Homo sapiens: one gene and its partner. The protein of the gene in region 1 interacts with the protein of each later gene in a pairwise test. Each region holds a gene or a part of one and is shown on either strand. Other genes may lie near its edges.

What was found.
Region 2: the proteins of DCLRE1B (region 1) and NDRG1 interact in binary tests that used the Homo sapiens proteins (3 or more experiments, as listed by UniProt).

Annotation. Positions count from the first base shown.
Region 1 is NC_000001.11:113,900,723-113,910,930, forward strand, and holds the start of DCLRE1B (5' exonuclease Apollo), read left to right. Parts: upstream 1-4,603; 5' UTR 4,604-4,864; coding exon 4,865-5,053; intron 5,054-6,273; coding exon 6,274-6,439; intron 6,440-7,286; coding exon 7,287-7,469; intron 7,470-10,208. Other genes in the region: AP4B1 (AP-4 complex subunit beta-1), read right to left, coding at 514-661, 1,033-1,163, 1,916-2,140, 3,883-3,995.
Region 2 is NC_000008.11:133,236,616-133,246,656, reverse strand, and holds the end of NDRG1 (protein NDRG1), read left to right. Parts: coding exon 1-41; intron 42-2,266; coding exon 2,267-2,302; intron 2,303-4,582; coding exon 4,583-4,634; intron 4,635-7,537; coding exon 7,538-7,779; 3' UTR 7,780-9,482; downstream 9,483-10,041. UniProt on the Homo sapiens protein: Stress-responsive protein involved in hormone responses, cell growth, and differentiation. Acts as a tumor suppressor in many cell types. Necessary but not sufficient for p53/TP53-mediated caspase activation and apoptosis.

The DNA of each region.
Region 1 (10,208 bases):
TATTCCCACAGTATATTTCTATTTCCCTATATCAATAAGGGAAAGTAAGGCAAATAAAAGAAATTCTCTCAGTGGAATGTGAGGGAGTTAATAGTGGTTAACTGGCCGGGCGCAGTGGCTCACGTCTGTAATCCCAGCACTTTGGGAGGCTGAGGCGGGCGGATCACCTGAGGTCAGAAGTTTGGGACCAGCCTGACCAACATGGTGAAACCCTGTCTCTACTAAAAATACAAAATTAGCCGGGCATGGTGGCGCATGCCTATAATCCCAGCTACTCGGGAGGCTGAGGCAGGAGAATTGCTTGAACCCAGGAGGCGGAGGTTGCGGTAAGCCGAGATAGCGCCATTGCACTCCAGCTTAGACAACAAGAGCAAAACTCCGTCTCAAATAATAATAATAATAATGGTTAACTTTCTTTTCTACCCCACATAAGTTGTTCAATACTTTAATACATCAACAAGATCCCACAAGGTAGCAGATCTCATAATAAAAAGAGTGCTGAGGCATCCAAACCGATTTAAGAGATGGTGAGCAATGGGCTTATTGATGACAACGCCTCCTTCCTGTTTCAGAATTTCCTCTAGAGACCTCAAGCAGTTCACAACTACAATTGGATCCTGGTCACGCAGCAAACTGTATAATTCATTTACCAGGGCACCATCTATAAAAAAGAACAAAGTTCTTAGATAAAGAAGGAAAGCTTCAGAGTAACAAGGATGTAGCCAGAGTAATAGCTCCAGGTAGACAAAGTTGAACTTCTCTGCTACAAAAATGACAAAGGCCACACTAAAGTGCAAGGCAAAAAAAAAACTGCCATGTCCAGACTGTTCTAAGCAGCTAATACAAAGGATCTCATTGGGGCCCCAGAGAAAGGACTTCTCATCTCCAGAAGATACCAAGCCCTGCATCCTACTTAAAGAGATATGTACAGAACTGGGGCCACATTATTATTTTCTACCAAAGCCACACAATCTTTTTTAAAGTTATACATAATGGAGGCACATTGACCATGATGGATTACACTGAACTTACCTACTTCAGAGTCTCCATGAAGATTATGCATCTTGGCACATCCAAGGACTGCCACTCTCCTGACATATGAAGCCTTATCCCGCAGACCATTGAGAATAGGCTGTTGTATATACTCCTGCACACCAGGCATCCTAAGCAACACATCCTGGAGTTAGCCAGATTCTGAAATACTAATTTTGACATACCTCAGCCCCTGTTCACCTAACAGATGGTTTAGTAGATGCTGCACCCATCAGATCATGAAGAATTGCAGAAAGCCTCTATCAAGCTTAAAAAGCCATAATTTGACTTTTCTGTTTTTTTCTTGTTTTTTTCAAGATGGGGTCTCACTTTGTCACCCAGTGGCCCGATCATAGCTCACTGCTGCCTTGAATTCCCGGGCCCAAGCCATCCTCCTGCCTCAGCCTTCCTAGTAGCTGAGACTACAGGTGCGTGTCACCATGCCCATTTAATTTTTTGTAGATATAGGCTCTCACCATCTTGCCCAGCTGGTCTCAAATTCCTGGGCTCAAGCAATCTTCCTGTCTAAGCCTCCCAAAGTGCTGGGTCTACAGGCATGAGCCACTGTGCCCAGCCTAATTTGACTTTTCATTTGGAATAATGATGCACAGGCAGCAAAAAAAGATATACACATAATTGTTTAGAGATATTTAACCAAAACTGAGGACTATTTTACTTAGAGTGAGAATCAAAAACTCCCTCTAATAAAATTATATGATACAGGTTATTAAGCCAAAGCAGTGGCTGAAAATCTGAGTTCAGGGTACAATAATGTTTTCCCCAGTATTAAGGAGCTCAAATAAATTATCCTCTTTAAAAACCTACCCTGTGATCACTTGAATTCATCAGCCATTTAGGACCAGACAGAGAAGAGGGTACTCACCTGAGGCTACACATGCTCCGTAACGCCAGCCCTCGCACCATTGGATTGGGGTCTGAGCAGTCTTTGCACAGCGTATTGATGGCCAGGAGAGCCAGATCTGGTTTCAGGGGAGCATATGTGCACATGTACAGATAAACCAACTTCTTCTGGACAATATCTACAGTGGCACTGGCCTTCACCATTTCCATAAAAACACCAGACATGTCCAAGCCTTGAGTCATGTACCTGAACAACGCACATGACAGAAGGAAGTAAAATGCAAAATCCCCAACTTACAATGGAGGGAGTTTTACTTACATATCTCCTGATTACCCAACTAGATTGTGATCTCTTAGAGGGTAGCAGCCAGGATTACCTTGTCTATTATATCACACAGTACTTCATACCATAGGCCTACAATAAACATTATTCTTCTATTCATTCAACAAACACTTATTATTATTTTTGAGACAGAGTCTTGCTCTGTTACCCAGGCTAGAGTGCAGTGGCACAATCTCGGCTCATTATAAGCTCCGCTTCCCAGGTTCAAGCGATTCTCCTGCCTCAGCCTCCCGAGTAGCTGGGACTACAGGTGCGTGCCACCACGCCCAGCTAATTTTTGTATTTTTAGTAGAGACGGGGTTTCTCCATGTTGGCCAGGCTGGTCTCGAACTCCTGACTGCAGGTGATCCACCCGCCTTGGCCTCCCAAAGTGCTGGGATTACCAGCGTGAGCCACCGCACCCAGCCTCAACAAACACTTATTGAATCCCTAGTACTTTGGTGAAATTCAACTTTTACATCCAGGGACATGCTCTTGGGACATAATCTTGAAGAAGGTGTGGTCTCAAACCTCTAGGAACTTCAAATCTATTAATGAGCCAGATGAGAATACCGTTAATTACAGTATGATAGATAAGTACTTAAACAGAAGTATTGTACAAGGTGTAGAGGGGATTCAGAGGTCTGACACTGGCAGGAAGTCAGAAAATGTTTCTTCACAGAGGAAGTAATACTTTAGCTGAATGAGCAGGAGCTCACTAGGCAGATGTAATAGCAAGGTAAAGATACATGCTATGAGGTAAGTAGACATGAGCAGGAGCAGCACACATTTTTTTAAGAGTCTGTAGGTAGTTGAATTAACAGCTTGTTCCTTGGGTGCTGTGATAAGTTTGGACTTTATTGTTTCTCAGACTGGTCTCCTACTGGAACCAACTGAAATGTTTATTAAAAATACAGATTCCTGGGTTCCCTCCCACCCTACTGAAATCAGAATCAGTCCCTGGACTGGATGACAAAAAGCACCCCAAGGGATTTTTATGCATAGTAAAGTTTGTGAACCATAGCTGTAGGCAAGAGTTATGTGTTCAGGTATGTATAATGGAAAAATTCTGTCTCAAATGAGGCAAAGTGGCCTACTAGTAAGCTGCTGCAATTGCTTTATTGATGAAGGCCTGGACCAGAACAACAATGCTAATAAACAAGAGAGGATGGATATTTAGAATTATGAATTCAAACCATCTGACATAAGAAGTGAGAGATCAGGTGTCCTCAAGGTTGGCTCCCACGCATAGTCGGCTGCTGGTGGCATTCATCAACACAAATGTAAGCTGAACAGGTTTGAGGAAGACGGAAGAATGTCCGGGCTATTTCGGACATACTTTTGATAAACCACGCACGTGGAAATGCCAAGCAGGCAGTGGGATACGTGGGTCTGAAGCTAAAAAAGGAAGTCTGTACTAGCTATATTATAGATCCAAGAGTCACCAGTAATTGCTCAAGCCCGTGATATGGAGGAAACTACCCAGCTGAGTAAAAGATGCTGCAGAGGGGAGACTGACATGGTACTCCAAAGCAGCAGGACGAAGACCGAACCATATAACTGCCACGTGTGAAAGCTAATTCACCCTTTCAGAGAGACTGGGGCTAGTGAGCCCTGATGGGGATTGCAAAGGGAGCAGTTAGCACGCGAAGGGAGGTAGGTGATACCTAATCACTCGCTGGATGACATTCCGGTAGCGCAGCCTATCAGCTTGAATGTGAGGATTGCACAGAGCCTTCTTCAGCTCCTTCACCACGTCCTCGGAGCCAAGGTACGGCATCTTCCTAAGAGTCACAGGGCAGCTCCCACAGCTCCCACGGTAACTCGAGGGCTCCTTCTCGTCCTGATGTGGGAGCCTGAGTAAAGGAAATATGAGTCAGTGAAAATACAAAAGGCGAGATCTCGCCTCAGGCTCGGCTTCCGTAGGGCCGGCACGCTGGCCCTGACACACTTCCACGCCCTCCGCGACACCGCGAGCCCCACCCTAGGCTCTTCAGGCCCTACCGTCGGCCGGCAGGCCGTTCGCCCCGCCCACAGATCGCTCCCGCTACTTCTAGGTCCTCCGCCGGATTTCCAGCGCCGCGTCCGACTGACCGCAGACCCCTCCCTCTCCAGTTCCAGCCTTAATTCCCCCTCCACGCCGTTCTCATCGCGGATAGGCCCAATCTTGCTTTCTGCGGAAGTCCCGCCCCCTTGTCAAGAGACCAAACAGAAGACCGCTGCCGGTCTCCCCGCGAGCGAGCGCTAAGCGTAGTCCCGACTCCGACCTTAGGATGCCCTTCCCCCAACCTCTCACTCTCCAGGCGCAGCTGCGCGGCTCCCTCTGGTGGAGCTGCGGCGGGCAATCGGAAATCGGCTACTTTGGCCTGTCTCCTCCCTGCAGCGCGCGCTTTGAGTGCCCGGCTCGGCCTCCGCTCCCGCGCGGTTGGGAGTGTCCAGCGCCCTCCGCGATTTGGGCTCCAGCGGGCAGGGTGACTTCCTTTTTCTGCCCACTCTGGTAACTTATTGCTCTGCTGGGCTCTTTCCCTTAGGGTCTCTGGCCCTGTTCTTGCCCCAGCATGACTTTTATCGGGACGCCGTTGTGGAAGCCTCACGCAGGAGCCCTGCCCCCGTGGAGAAGATCCCACTGGTGACTCCAACCCTACCACCATGAATGGGGTCCTGATCCCCCATACGCCCATCGCAGTGGACTTCTGGAGCCTGCGCCGGGCTGGCACCGCACGTCTCTTCTTCTTGTCTCACATGCACTCGGACCACACCGTGGGCCTGTCTAGCACCTGGGCCCGGCCCCTCTACTGCTCCCCAATTACAGCCCACCTCTTGCATCGTCACCTACAGGTATGGGGCTGGAGTCGGTCTCCGAGAGCTGGTCCAGGCATCTGGGTTGGGACTTCAACCTGTCATTCTTGGAGTCATAGAATGGGGGCCACGAAAACTGATTTGGAAGTTGTTTGAACCCAAAAATGCATCTTTAACCCAGAATAGGAACGTGTTTTCGAAGTGACCAACTTGAGATAGTTAGCCATAAGTTGAGGAGATATTTTAATCCAGCCAAGGAAACTATTCCTACCTTTATAAGTAAGCTAGGCCGATGTTTCCCAAACTTGCCTTTTTTTTTTTTTTTTTTTTTTTTTTTTGAGACGGAGTCTCGCTCTGTTGCCCAGGCTGGAGTGCAGTGGCGCAATCTCGGCTCACTGCAGCCTCCGCCTCCCGGGTTCAAGCGATTCTCCTGTCTCGGCCTCCTGAGTAGCTGAGATTACAGGCGCACGCCACCACGCCCAGCTAATTTTTTGTATTTTTTGTGGAGACGGGGTTTCACCATGTTGGCCAGGCTGTTCTCTAACTCCTGACCTTAAGTGATCCGCCCGCCTCAGCCTCCCCAAGTGCTGGGATTACAAGCGTGAGCCACCACGCCCCGCCTAAACTTGCCTCATCTTAAGAATCCACCTAATGTGCTGGGTGGTTCTCCAGCTCTCTCCCCACCCCACCCTTAAGTCTCCAAGAGATTAAGATCAGGAGTAAGTTTGGGAATTGCTGACTAGACTGTTTGCTGAACTCTTTTTTTTTTTTTGAGATGGAGTCTCGCTCTGTCGCCCAGGCTGGAGTGCAGTGGCGCAAACTCGGCTCACTGCAAGCTCCGCCTCCCGGGTTCACGCCATTCTCCTGCCTCAGCCTCCCGAGTAGCTGGGACTACAGGCGCCCGCCACCACGCCTGGCTAATTTTTTTTGTATTTTTTAGTAGAGACGGGGTTTCACCGTGTTAGCCAGGATGGTCTCGATCTCCTGACCTCGTGATCCACCCGCCTCAGCCTCCCAAAGTGCTGGGATTACAGGCGTGAGCCACCACGCCCGGCCAGCTGAACTCTTAAATTGTACAAAGGGTGGGATGGGAAGTGGAAGGAGGAAGGGCAGATTGCTTGGGAATCCCCATTACAGCTTCTGCTCCCGGTGGCTCAGGATTTGGTCAGCTTTCCTGATTCATGTAAGGGATAGTCCCTGACCCGGGGAGGTAACGGAGAGGAGTCAGTGGTCACTGGGATGACTAACTGTTTTCTCAGGTATCTAAGCAATGGATCCAAGCCCTGGAGGTTGGTGAGAGCCATGTATTACCCCTAGATGAAATTGGACAAGAGACCATGACCGTAACCCTCCTCGATGCCAATCACTGTCCTGGTTCTGTCATGTTTCTCTTTGAAGGATATTTTGGAACCATCCTCTACACAGGTGGGCCTCTCAAGGAATCCCAGTGACTTCTCCAGACTAGATGTTTTTTTTTTTTTTTTTTTTTTTTTTTTTTAATGTATAGACTGGGGCCTCGCAGTGTTGCCGAGGCTGGTCTCAAACTCCTGACCTCAAGCAATCCTCCCGCTTCAGCCTCCACAGTAGCTAGGATTATTGGCACAAGCCACCACACCTGGCAGACTTTTCTTGAGCAGCCTTAACTCAATAGAAGTCTGGAGGCGCTGGAGGCCTTCTAACTTCATCACATATGAGCATAGTGACCCCATCTCAACTGATTTCCCACTGTTTTTTTTTCCTTCTTCTTTTTGAGACGGAGTTTCACTCTTGTCACCCAGGCTGGAGTGCAGTGGCGTGATTGTGGCTCACTGCAACCTCCGCCTTCTGGGTTCAAGTGATTCTCTTGCCTCAGCCTCCCAAGTAGCTGGGATGACAGGCGCCTGCCACCACGCCCAGCTAATTTTCGTATTTACTATTAGTAGAGACGGGGTTTCACCATGTTGGCCAGGCTGGTCTCGAACTCCTGACCTCAGGTGATCCACCTGGCTCGGCCCCCCAAAGTGCTGGGATTACAGGTGTGAGCCACTGCGCCTGGCCGATTTCCCACTCTTTAAGGGTCCGAACCTTGTGAAGAGTAATTGAAAAATAGGAGTAGGATGGAGACATTACAACAAAGAAACCATGCAGCTATACTGCCTAGTTCAGTGCCAGGCTACATAATAGTTTTTTCACAGACTAGTAAGCAAACGCCTGTCTATTGTTGGAGGTAGGAGAGGCTTGTCTTCTATTCTTTTGTCTCTGACCTTCTGCCCCCATGTACATATTCCTCCAGGTGATTTTCGATACACACCATCCATGCTAAAGGAGCCAGCCCTGACACTGGGGAAACAGATCCATACTTTATACCTAGACAACACCAATTGCAATCCAGCCCTGGTTCTTCCTTCCCGACAAGAAGCTGCCCACCAGATTGTCCAGCTCATTCGAAAACACCCACAACATAACATAAAGATTGGTGAGTTGTTTCCTTTCAGTTTCCTGTCACCTGTAGATAGTGAACTAGATTCTTTAAGGATTCTCACATCTTTCAGATCTTTGTGCAGTTCTCACTTTCTCCTACACTGACCACCTTATTTAAAATTGCAACCTGGCTAGGTGTGGTGGTTCATGCCTATAATCCCAGCACTTTGGGAGGCCAAGATGGGAGGGTCATTTGAGCCCAGGCGTTTGAGACCAGCTTGGGCAACATGGCAAGACCCTGTCTCTACAAAAAATTTAAAAATCAGTTGGGCACGATGGTGCGTGCCTGTGGTCCCAGCTACACAGGGGACTGAGACAGGAGGATTGCCTGGGTCCAGTAGGAGGTCAAGGTTGCAGTGAGCCATGTAAGTGCCATTGCACTCCAGCCTGGATGACAGAGCAAGACCCTGTCTCAATAAATGAATGAATGAATGAAATAAGTAAAACTGCAACCTGCCCACCATCCCCATTCCCAACTCCTGATCATCCATACCAATTCATTTTTTTCATTTTTTTATAGCACTCATATACTATATATATTTTTAAATATGCTATTGCTTACTTGTTGTCTATCATGCACTTCCTCTGGCCCATGCACATACGCGTGCACACACACACACACACAAGCATAAACTCCTTAAGAGCATCACTGGAAATGGGAAGAGACTTTGTGTGTTTGTGGAACAGAGAAGCAGCAGTCAGTATGACAGGCACACAGTGGGCAAGGAGGCTGAAAAGGCAAGAGGGGCTGAAGTGCTGTTAAGCCATTTTGGACTTGATCCTAAACCCAACCAAGAGCTATTGAAGGATTTTAAGTAGAAGAGGGACAATATGCACTCATCACCTTGCAATATATTCTATAATTTATGTATTTATTGGACTTTTTATTGTCTGATTCCCCCTGCTAGAATGTGAATTCCACTATGGCAGTCTCTGTTTTATTATGGGTGTATCACAAATGCCTACACTAATGCCTGACACAGAAGCATTCAATATGAATGAATGAAATTTATCAGAACATAGATATTTAAGTGAGCGTTGTGCTTTAAATTAAGTATACTGAAAAAACAGGTTTGTGCTTGTTGTACTGATTATAAATAGTATAAAACATTGTTGAGGACTCTTTCTTGGAGTTGCCATTTGGAATAGTTTATGAAAATACATTTTTGTTTTATAAAATAAATAAATGTAATAGATTTGGTTCTAAATTACTTTTTTGGTTGTTTCCAAATTTGTGAGTCTACAAAAGGACAAAGACTTGCCACCATTATAAATATTTGAAAAGGACATGTCTCAACTCTGAAAGGAGTTTCAAAATGAGACTAAACAAAGGCATTGAAAAAATTATATAACTTCCAGGGTGACTACCAAATCGATTGAGAAATATCCTCTACTCTCAGGATTGCTTAGCTACTTATAAAGACCTAACCATTCTTAATATTTTAATGCAGAATTTTCTCAAAAAAGCAAAGCTGGCTAGGAGGATGCTATAGTAAGCCTTAATTAATTTTGCAAATATGTAATAAGCCTCTACCCACTAAGTACCAAGTATCCAATAGGCAGTGGGGATATAAAGATGAATAAAATATAGTCTCTGACTTGGAGGGCTCACAGTCTGGTAGGGAAGGACCTGTGGGGAGGTGGAAGTGGGAATATATATAGAGAGAAGAAAAATCCGCTCCATTTGTGCCCAAGGAGTGAGATTTTGAACCATAATCAGGAATAAAGTGGATATAAATAATATATACTTCTTTTTATGGCGTTCACAATCTGGTTGTGGATTTGAAACTTCTTCAGAAAAAGTCTGAGAACAGCTATTAAACAACATCTCCCATATCTGTTACCATAACCATTTCCCAAATTAATGTCTCCATTTCTTTCTCTGTAAGTACTATTTGGGCCCTTCAATTGAAACTTCCACTCCAGCTTCTTCTCATCCTGGCAGTCAAATAATATTATTACCATATTTTTCTTTTTAAAGCCCTGCTCTGAGCATATTATTCTTATGATTAGAATTAGCCATTTTCCTGCTTCACACTCAGTGGCTCCCCTTCACTTACACAATGAAGTCCAAGCTTCTTAGCGGTACATATAAGACGCTCTATTATATGGCCCTTGCTTGCCTCTCTGGTATCATTTCTTATCAATTCCTTTTTTACTTTAGTAACAGCAAACTGACCCCTCTTAAAATGTTTTCCACTATACCCTTTCTACCCTTTCCTTGCCAGGTTAACCTTGCCCATCCTTTAAGATTTAGCCTAACGTTCCCTAACTCCATCACCTGTTAGATACAATACTGTATACTTTTTTTGTTTTTTTTTAAGAGACAGGGTCTCACTCTGTTGCCCAGGCTGGAGGGTAGTGGCATGATCACAGCTCACTGCAGCCTGGACCTCCCGGACTCAAGTGATCCTCCCGCGTCAGCTTCCTGTGTACCAGGAACTATAGGCGTGCACCAACATGCTTATTTGTTTATTTTTGTAGAGACAGGGTCTTGCCAGGTTGCCCAGGTTGGTCTTGAACTCCTGGGCTCAAGCAATCCTCCTGCCTCAGCCTCCTAAAATTGTAGGCTTACAGGTGTGAGCCACAGTGCCCGGCCTGTACACATATCTTTAACGTTGCTCTTAATTGTGGTTTTTCTGGGTCTCCTTGTAGATAGTACTTCTTGAGGACTGACAGTTTTCTTTATTAGTTTTCATGGTGCCTGAAACTTGCTAGATGCTCTCTTTTGTTG
Region 2 (10,041 bases), on another chromosome or scaffold:
GCAACTCAAAATTGGACCCAACAAAGACCACTCTCCTCAAGGTACAGGGAAAACAGTGGGGGTTCGTGTTTGTTATTTCTTAGAAACTCTCAGACGTTTTCTGCAACATTGAGTTAGGCTTGAAAAAGGCAAGGCACACGATCAGAAACTATAGAATTAATGATTTAATCTATCTGTTTATGAACATATATTGGGTGCTGACTGGTGATCTGAGGCTGCAAAGATGAGGGATCCTTCTCTGGGACTGCAGGAATCAATAGGCTGCTGGTCTGGGGGCTTTGGGGATAGAGGGACCAGGGATGGCTTGGCAAGGGCCCTCCATAGGCTGGGGCCAGGACATTCCTCCAAGAGGGGCTCTCTGCTTGTCACAATAAGAAGAGACGTGTCCCACAGCCGGGGAAGGTCAGGACTTTGTCCAGCAAGTTCATCTGAGCACATGGTGAGCCAGCTCACTCGCAGCTGGATTTGAGTGTCTGTAGCAACCTCCGCCAGTCCTTTGCCAGTTATGACTGATTGCACAATGCAAACCACTGGCTGTTTGTGGCGGCCTCGTCCGGAGATGCAGCCCAAGAGTGGGAACCTTTCAGAGGGGCCTCTCAGCCGGGGTGCACCCCTGCAGGGGCAGATGACCAGGCGGGACCTGGGTGGAGATGAGGCGGCTCCCTCGCACTGGGGGAAGGACAAAGAGGTGGCATCTGTAGGTCACCGTGCCCTCAACTTCCCCCATAGAAGTAGAATGCCTTTGAAAGGCATGTAGGGGGTGTCCGATACTTATTGAGTGGGAGGCTGTTTTCCTGTATTGGGCTCTTTACATAGATTTTCTTTCAAGATTCCCTCAAAAGGAAATTGCAAGATTAGAAGCTGCTGGGCGTCAAGCTTGCATAATGCCGTACTTTGAGGGCGGTTGTCACAAGTATCACAAAATGGGTGGCTTAAAGCAACAGATATTTATTCCCTTTTAGTTCTGGAAGCTAAAAGTCCGAAATCAAGGTGTGGGCAGGGCCGTGCTCCCTCTGAAGGTGCTAGGGGAGAATGCTGCCTGCCTCTTCCAGCTTCTGGTGGCTGCTGGCCACACTTGGTTCACCTTAGCTAGTAGACACATCACTCCAGTCTCTGCCTCCATCCTCACTCAGCACTCTCCCGATTGTATCTCTGCGTCTATGTCCAAATTTCCTTCTTCTTTTAATAACATCAGCCGTTAGCTTTAGGGCCCGCTCTAATCCAATATGACCTCATCTTAACTTGATTTTACCTGCAAAGACCCTATTTCCAAGTATAGCCACAGTGATAGGTACTGGGGTTAGGACTTCAGTATGTCTATTTTGGGGACACAATTCAACCACAACCTACAGCAAAGGGTAGGTGGCCTGACTGAGGTGGGGTGGCCGATTTGATGGTAGATCCAGAAACAGAACTCACTTAGGCCTGATTCTGGAGACTTCCACAGCGTCAGTCTAATGTGCTGAGTGCCCCGCCTGGAGGAAAAATTCGGGCATCCTGCTCCCTGCGTGCTGGTTGAGCTGAGGGCTGCCCCAGGTCAGTGTCGCTTTGTGGCTAGTGTTGGGGGTCCAGACTTGAGGCGCCCTGGGCTGTAGGATGCCCACAGCCTCACCACTCCCATGAACTCCTCCAGCCCCGTTTCACCCCAGGCCACCCTCCCCGCAGCCTCCCCCTGCTCCCTTGCCGTCAGCGCTGCCCATTTCCAGGCTGGCTGCACAGTCTCACAGCCTGCAATGGCCTCTTGCGGTTCGGTGATTTCACAGGGACTTTGAACGTCCACCATTTAGGAAGGGTACTGGTCAGCTGAATCCGGCCTGAAGACCCAAATTCAACCACTTCCTTTTGAGGGAAACTTTCAAGGGAATATATGAAGAGGGTCTTGTTTATCAAACCCTTTCGGGTCAGAGAGATCCTGGCCTGGAACCTTGCGAGTCCCTCAAGCTCTTCCTGGCCCAGTTTCTGCCTGTAAAATGGGACAGCTGTACCTTCCATGGTTCTTGGGGAATGGAGTGAAATTATCTGTAGGGCCTAGCATAGTGCCTGGCACGTAGCAAGCTGCAAGTGATGGTTGCCACGGAGACACCAGCAGCCTTGCCTGGTGGGGCTGGAGTGTTCCCTACCCACGGTCCACCCTGTTCCTCCTTTGTAAGGCAGGACAAGGCAGGGCAGGGCAGCGGGCGGATGGGCATCCTTTCGGAAAAAATTCATAGAGCGCAGAGGGCCTTGGCTGTGGTGTTTGGCACTAACGAGCTTCCCTCTCTCCTAGATGGCGGACTGTGGCGGCCTCCCGCAGATCTCCCAGGTGAGTGCCATGTTGGCTTTTGCATTATACAGCTGTCGCTTCCCCCTGGGTGGAGTGCATGTGCCTCTGTGACACCTGTTCCCTCATTACCTTGCTGTGACATCGGATGACAGTTTGTGGACTGTTGGGAAAAGGTGCTATATAGGAGGACTCTGATTCCCTAGGAACCAACCCCTGTGGAGTAGGTGATACTGCGGTTCACAGAGGTTGGGGGATTTGCCAAGTAGACACACCTTGGTCATCATGGGTCAGAATCTGGGTATGTCTGCCCCAAAGACCACGGGCTTCTGCTGGAGTGAAGGGCCGCAAGGAGCTCCAGCCCAGAGCAGAGGGACATGGAGGAGATTAAGCCAAATTGTGTGTGTGTGCATGCATGTTTCTGTGTGTGCATGTGTACACGTCTGTGTGTGTGCATGTGTACACATGTCTGTGTGCATGTGTAAATGTGTGTGCACATGTACAAATAAACACATTGATCAACGTAATGTGTTTGCTACGTAACTGATCCCTTCAATTTCCCCTCCTATAAAGAATCTCACCAACCTAACAAGTAAACTTTTAATTTGTTGTCTTATAATTTTATATCCTGACAGTTTTGTGTTCCATCTTAAAATGAAATAGAGTTTTTTGTCATCTTTTTTATCCAAAACCTGCCCTGCCTCCTTTCTTCCTCCTTTTTTTCTTTCTCTACTTAAAATGAGAACAGATGTAACCCTGGTCATAATTAAAAGAATTTTCAGAGCTTCAGAGGAGTGCAACGAGCACAGGCTTCGAGGACACCAGCACAGGGGGGAGCAATTCCTGTGTGACACTGTCGTCCTCATGCCGTTGCAGGTTGGGTGTATGTTTACACAGGGTTTTCCCATCCTTGATTAAATTAGGTCCTTGCAATAGTCCTCAGAGGTGGGAAGAGCAAGCATTTTATCCCAGTGTCACAGAAGAGGAAACTGAGGCCAAAAGTTGAGAGAGATTGCCCATGATTACTGGAGCTAAAATTGGGCCCAAGTGTTCTCATTCCCAAGCGTGTATTCTTGGTTCTCTCCACCATCTCGAACACAGGCGTCCCTGTTCCCTGCAGCCCTGACCTGCTTCTCTTGTCTCTTTCTTCCACTGTCACACAAATTCCAGAGGGCAATTTGAGCATAGCCGCTCTTTTAAATGTCATTTGGCTCTTTGTGGAATCCTGGCAGGAGTTAGTGGAGAGCAGGGAGGGGGGTCAGCCCAGCCTCTACCAGTGCCCTCTCACTGCCTCAGGAGAATAGGACCCAGGGCACTGGATAGAACAGTTGGGATTAACTGAAGAACAGATACGCCTTGCACGTATGCCCTTGATATTTGAGCATTCACCTCCAAGTTTACATTAAATGAACTGAGAGAACTGGTAGAACTGGATGTGGTCTCAGCATTCCATACGCATTTCACTTAAAGTAGCCCAGTTAGTTGTTAATTAATTGGTTTGTTTACCCATCCAACGAACCATCCAACCATCATCCATTCATTCTTCTTCATATCCTTTCTTCCTTTTATTTGTCCTTCTTTTGTTCATATTTCTCTTTTTTTCTTCCTTTTGTCCATCAATTCTTTTTTTAATCCATCTTTCCTTCCTTCCTTCCTTCTCTTCCTTTCTTTCTTTTTTCCTTCCTTCTTTCCATCCATCCTTTTCTTTCCACCCATCCATCTATCCATCATCCCTTCTTTCAGCCAGCCTGCTATTGAGGCTGACAGTGATTTGCCTCAAGAACAAGTGTTTTAGGTTTGGAGAGCCCTGGGTTAATGTACAGGACCCACCACTTACTTGTTGTGGGACCCTGAGTGGATTTACCTGTCCAAATCTGTTCAGCTATGAAATGTATCTAAGGTAGCACTGACCTCGTGAGGGGTTGTCAGGAGTAAATGAATGAACGCAGCAAAGCCCCTTGCATTGGGAGTGGCTCATGATGCCGATGCAGTTATGTTCCACTTGCTGGGTTAGACATGTCCCTTTGTGGATGGTAATCTCCTCAGAAACACACAGAAATAGCTGTGATACTCTGCCCTGTATTACAGGTGAGGAAACTGGCTCAGACAGGTCATGTAACTTGTCCAAGTTCCACAGCTGTGGGGTGAATTTCCCATCATTGTCCCATACTCTTACTTTTGTGTTTTGTCCTGTCAACACGTGATGGCTTTTGTCTTGAGCCAAACTCTCAAATGAAGGTGACCACAGGCACAGCCCCCCATGGCCTCGGGTGATCTGGCTCCCCAGCAACTGACTGCATTTTCTCTCCTTGTCTCTCGCAGCCGGCCAAGCTCGCTGAGGCCTTCAAGTACTTCGTGCAGGGCATGGGATACAGTGAGTATGGCATTCCCCGTGTGCAGTGGGTCGGGGCATGTGTCGGAATTGGAAGTGCTCTGTCCTGAGCCAGGTTTGGATGAGCAATTCTGTGTCCCCCTGGCCAGCTTCAGCTTTCTGGGAGGAAACAGTTAGGTGTGTGGAGGGCATGTGGCAGCCTGGAGGATCTAGCCTCTCATTTATCAGTGAGGCTCATTTTTCCTCCTTTGTTGAATAGAAGTTGTTTCACACCAGGGATTTTGGGGGGTTTAGATGAGGACTGTCCCTTTAAGCACCAAGACAATGACCAACAGTGAAACAATAACATTTTTAAAAATTTTGATCACAAGTTTTAAGAGACCACTAGCTACAGTGATGATGAAGATGGTGTCGATGATGATGAAAGATTACTAACACATTATTTTATCTCACTGAACCATCACAGTACTCCTTTGACATATTCTTAGCCCATCTTATCAGTGATGAAGCTGAGGCTTCGGGGTTGTAAGCAGGGAGCAGAGGGCGGATCTGTGGAAATTCTTTGAAGACTGTGAAGCTCTGTGGAAGTGGCTAACAAAGTTGCTTACATTCAAGGTGGAGCATGCCATAGTCAAGTCATGAGCTTTGGGAAGTGGAGGATACATTGGAAGCATCATTCAGGAACTCACTCGTTCTTATTTTGCAGTTATAGTTTGTTAGACACATACAGCCTTTTTTCCAGAAGTGCTGTCCCAGGACTAGGACAGACCCTGGCGAGTTGTAACTCGGCTGAACAGCAGCCACACTCAGTGCTGTGGGCCTGTCAGCCATGGTCCGGCCCTGACATGACTAGTGGCTCTTCTGACCCTACTGCTTGGAACTATAATTCGTGTGTCCTCCCTTACTAGGAAGTTATTGAACTTCTGATCCCTTTTATCATTTCCTTAAACTGTTTGCCCATGTATAGTAAGAGTATGCTTGGTAAGCTGACTGCAGTCCTAGCATTGGCCTTAGCCATGATTAGCTCTAGCAAGGCGAGGCTGGCAGGTTTGATTTCCATGCCTCAGGCTCAGGCAGGATCCACATCCCCAGGTGCCCTCTTCCAACAGAAGCTATCTGCTAGTGGGGCTCCTGCCTTTCTAGCCTGCTTTCCCCGACGGAAGTTGCAGGCAAAGGTTGTCATTGGAGACAGCCATGGAGACAGCCGCGGGGCAGTCCTGCTTTACCCTGCACGGTGTGAATTGTGGCTCCCATTTGTCTTGGTCCCGCCAGGGTTTGGATTTCTGCTTTGAGAGTGTGTTCTGGAGAGAAAGGAAGTGAATGCTAGACCTCATCTTTCTCCCCAAATCGGCTTCTATTACCAGAAAGCTGAAGCCTCCTGCAGGTCTTGGGGGGAAAATAACAGGAAGAGCTATGGTCTCAAAGGCATCAGCCAAAGAGAAGGAAAGGAACCGGTCACTGGCCTTCTGCACACCACGGGGTGCTGGCTTGATGAACCCTTTGCACACCTGGCATCAGTGCTCACTGTACGCTTCTCATCCTGCTCAGTAGACATCCCAGATTTGTGGGTGAGAAGTAGGGGCTCAGAGAAATATGTGAGCTGCGGATGTGGCATTGACCCCAATTCTTTCTGAATTCAAAACTAGCTCTTTAAGACAATTCAGCAAGGATTAATTCTGTTTGGGAGTGCCTGACATCAAAAGCCCCTCCCTGTGCCTATCAAGGAGATAACATAAGCCCTGCATGCTTGGTGTGGATCAACTGCCCCTGTTTCTGATGTCTGACTCAGTGTGGCCTCCTAGCCATGATGCTTCAGTTGGGTGGAGTACTAGTTTCCTAAAGCTGCCGTAACAAATCTCCACAAACTGGGTGGCTGAAAACAATAGAAATCCATTCTCTCAAAGTTCAGGAGGCCTAAAGTCCAAAATCAAGGTGTGGGCAGGGCCTTGCTCCCTCCAACGCTGCTGTGGAAGAACCTTCCATGCCTCTTCCTGGCTTCTGGTGGCCCCAGCAATCCTTGGCTTTATGTGGCTTGTGGCTGCATCACTCCAATCTCAGCCTCTGTCTTTGCGTGGACTTCTCCCCTGCATATCCCTGTGTGCTGTTTCTATAAGGACATCACAGTCATTGGGTTTAGGGTTCCCTCTCAACCCAGGATGATTTCATCTCAAGATCCTTAACTAATTACATATGCAAAGACCCTATTTCCAAATAAGGTTCCCTTCTGAAGTTTCAGGTAGGTGTGAATCTTCCGGGACACTGTCCCACCCGGTACAGGTGGGCAGGATTGTTCCTCCTCATTCCACCCCATCAGCACGTGCTACCCCATCAGCATGTGCCACTTGCACGTGCCATGTGCAAGAGCATTTGAGGTCTCAGAGAAGATCCCAAAGAATAGACAGCGCCCTTGTTAGCACCTGGGCTGACAGGCTTCTTTGGGAGAGATGACAACGAATAGCCATGCCGGGAACTTGCCGTGTGGCCCCTCTCCCTTTCCCCACCTGTGATGTGCAGGGCCACTGACCCCAGGTGTCCTCCCTGCTCCAGTGATCATGGACAGCATGGGGTCATGGGCGTACACACAGGTGCTGATACCAGGGGTCAGTATTTAACATACTTGCTTTACAGATGGGAACAGGGAGGCTCAGGGGGACACTCTCAAAATTACACAGCTTTTAACAGGTGGCAGAATTGGGGTTCAGACCCAGATCTGGGTTCAAGTCACTCATGGTGTGATTGCGGCAGTTCCTTCCCGCATCTGGGCCTTGCCATCTCTCTCTCCGAGTGGACATGGAGAGGACGGGGGCCCAGCAGCTGGATGGCTGCAGGGATCAAGTCTTCTCTGGGGCTGGCACGTAGAAGAGCATGTGGCTGGTGGACGGGCATGCCTGGCTCCTCACCTGGCAGTCTCCTGCCCTCTAACCGGCTGTCTCTTGTTCCCCTAGTGCCCTCGGCTAGCATGACCCGCCTGATGCGGTCCCGCACAGCCTCTGGTTCCAGCGTCACTTCTCTGGATGGCACCCGCAGCCGCTCCCACACCAGCGAGGGCACCCGAAGCCGCTCCCACACCAGCGAGGGCACCCGCAGCCGCTCGCACACCAGCGAGGGGGCCCACCTGGACATCACCCCCAACTCGGGTGCTGCTGGGAACAGCGCCGGGCCCAAGTCCATGGAGGTCTCCTGCTAGGCGGCCTGCCCAGCTGCCGCCCCCGGACTCTGATCTCTGTAGTGGCCCCCTCCTCCCCGGCCCCTTTTCGCCCCCTGCCTGCCATACTGCGCCTAACTCGGTATTAATCCAAAGCTTATTTTGTAAGAGTGAGCTCTGGTGGAGACAAATGAGGTCTATTACGTGGGTGCCCTCTCCAAAGGCGGGGTGGCGGTGGACCAAAGGAAGGAAGCAAGCATCTCCGCATCGCATCCTCTTCCATTAACCAGTGGCCGGTTGCCACTCTCCTCCCCTCCCTCAGAGACACCAAACTGCCAAAAACAAGACGCGTAGCAGCACACACTTCACAAAGCCAAGCCTAGGCCGCCCTGAGCATCCTGGTTCAAACGGGTGCCTGGTCAGAAGGCCAGCCGCCCACTTCCCGTTTCCTCTTTAACTGAGGAGAAGCTGATCCAGTTTCCGGAAACAAAATCCTTTTCTCATTTGGGGAGGGGGGTAATAGTGACATGCAGGCACCTCTTTTAAACAGGCAAAACAGGAAGGGGGAAAAGGTGGGATTCATGTCGAGGCTAGAGGCATTTGGAACAACAAATCTACGTAGTTAACTTGAAGAAACCGATTTTTAAAGTTGGTGCATCTAGAAAGCTTTGAATGCAGAAGCAAACAAGCTTGATTTTTCTAGCATCCTCTTAATGTGCAGCAAAAGCAGGCGACAAAATCTCCTGGCTTTACAGACAAAAATATTTCAGCAAACGTTGGGCATCATGGTTTTTGAAGGCTTTAGTTCTGCTTTCTGCCTCTCCTCCACAGCCCCAACCTCCCACCCCTGATACATGAGCCAGTGATTATTCTTGTTCAGGGAGAAGATCATTTAGATTTGTTTTGCATTCCTTAGAATGGAGGGCAACATTCCACAGCTGCCCTGGCTGTGATGAGTGTCCTTGCAGGGGCCGGAGTAGGAGCACTGGGGTGGGGGTGGAATTGGGGTTACTCGATGTAAGGGATTCCTTGTTGTTGTGTTGAGATCCAGTGCAGTTGTGATTTCTGTGGATCCCAGCTTGGTTCCAGGAATTTTGTGTGATTGGCTTAAATCCAGTTTTCAATCTTCGACAGCTGGGCTGGAACGTGAACTCAGTAGCTGAACCTGTCTGACCCGGTCACGTTCTTGGATCCTCAGAACTCTTTGCTCTTGTCGGGGTGGGGGTGGGAACTCACGTGGGGAGCGGTGGCTGAGAAAATGTAAGGATTCTGGAATACATATTCCATGGGACTTTCCTTCCCTCTCCTGCTTCCTCTTTTCCTGCTCCCTAACCTTTCGCCGAATGGGGCAGCACCACTGACGTTTCTGGGCGGCCAGTGCGGCTGCCAGGTTCCTGTACTACTGCCTTGTACTTTTCATTTTGGCTCACCGTGGATTTTCTCATAGGAAGTTTGGTCAGAGTGAATTGAATATTGTAAGTCAGCCACTGGGACCCGAGGATTTCTGGGACCCCGCAGTTGGGAGGAGGAAGTAGTCCAGCCTTCCAGGTGGCGTGAGAGGCAATGACTCGTTACCTGCCGCCCATCACCTTGGAGGCCTTCCCTGGCCTTGAGTAGAAAAGTCGGGGATCGGGGCAAGAGAGGCTGAGTACGGATGGGAAACTATTGTGCACAAGTCTTTCCAGAGGAGTTTCTTAATGAGATATTTGTATTTATTTCCAGACCAATAAATTTGTAACTTTGCAGCGGCTTGTGTCTTTTTTCTGTCCCTGAGAGATTGTGTGTGTGAAACATTGCAGTGCAGGGATGGCTGTTTCACTGGGGGGTTGCCCGTCCTTGACACCTAGGGGACCCCAGCCCCTCATCTCTGGAATTCTTTCCTCGGAGCATCACGTCCAGCAGAAATTTAAGTCAGCTCATATGTTAATTCTAATTTCCCAGTGGCCACATTTTCAAAAGTGGAAAGAAACAGATGAAATTAATTTTAATAATACATTTCATTTATCTCAAGACGTCTAAAATATTACCACTTCTATAAAAACTATTGACCAGGTATTTTGCATTCTTTTTTCATTCTAGGAACTCTAGTGTGTTTCACACTCGCAATGCATTCAGACCAGCTGCATTTCAATTGCCCAGTAGCTTGGGCAGCACAATGATGAGGATAAAAAACTTTCCAACCTATAATTCGAGGAAAACAGCTTTTTTATTTTTAATATTTATTTTTATTTTTTGAAACGTAGTCTCACTTTGTCACCCAGGCTCAAGTGCAGTGGCACAATCTTCGCTAATTGCAACCTCCGC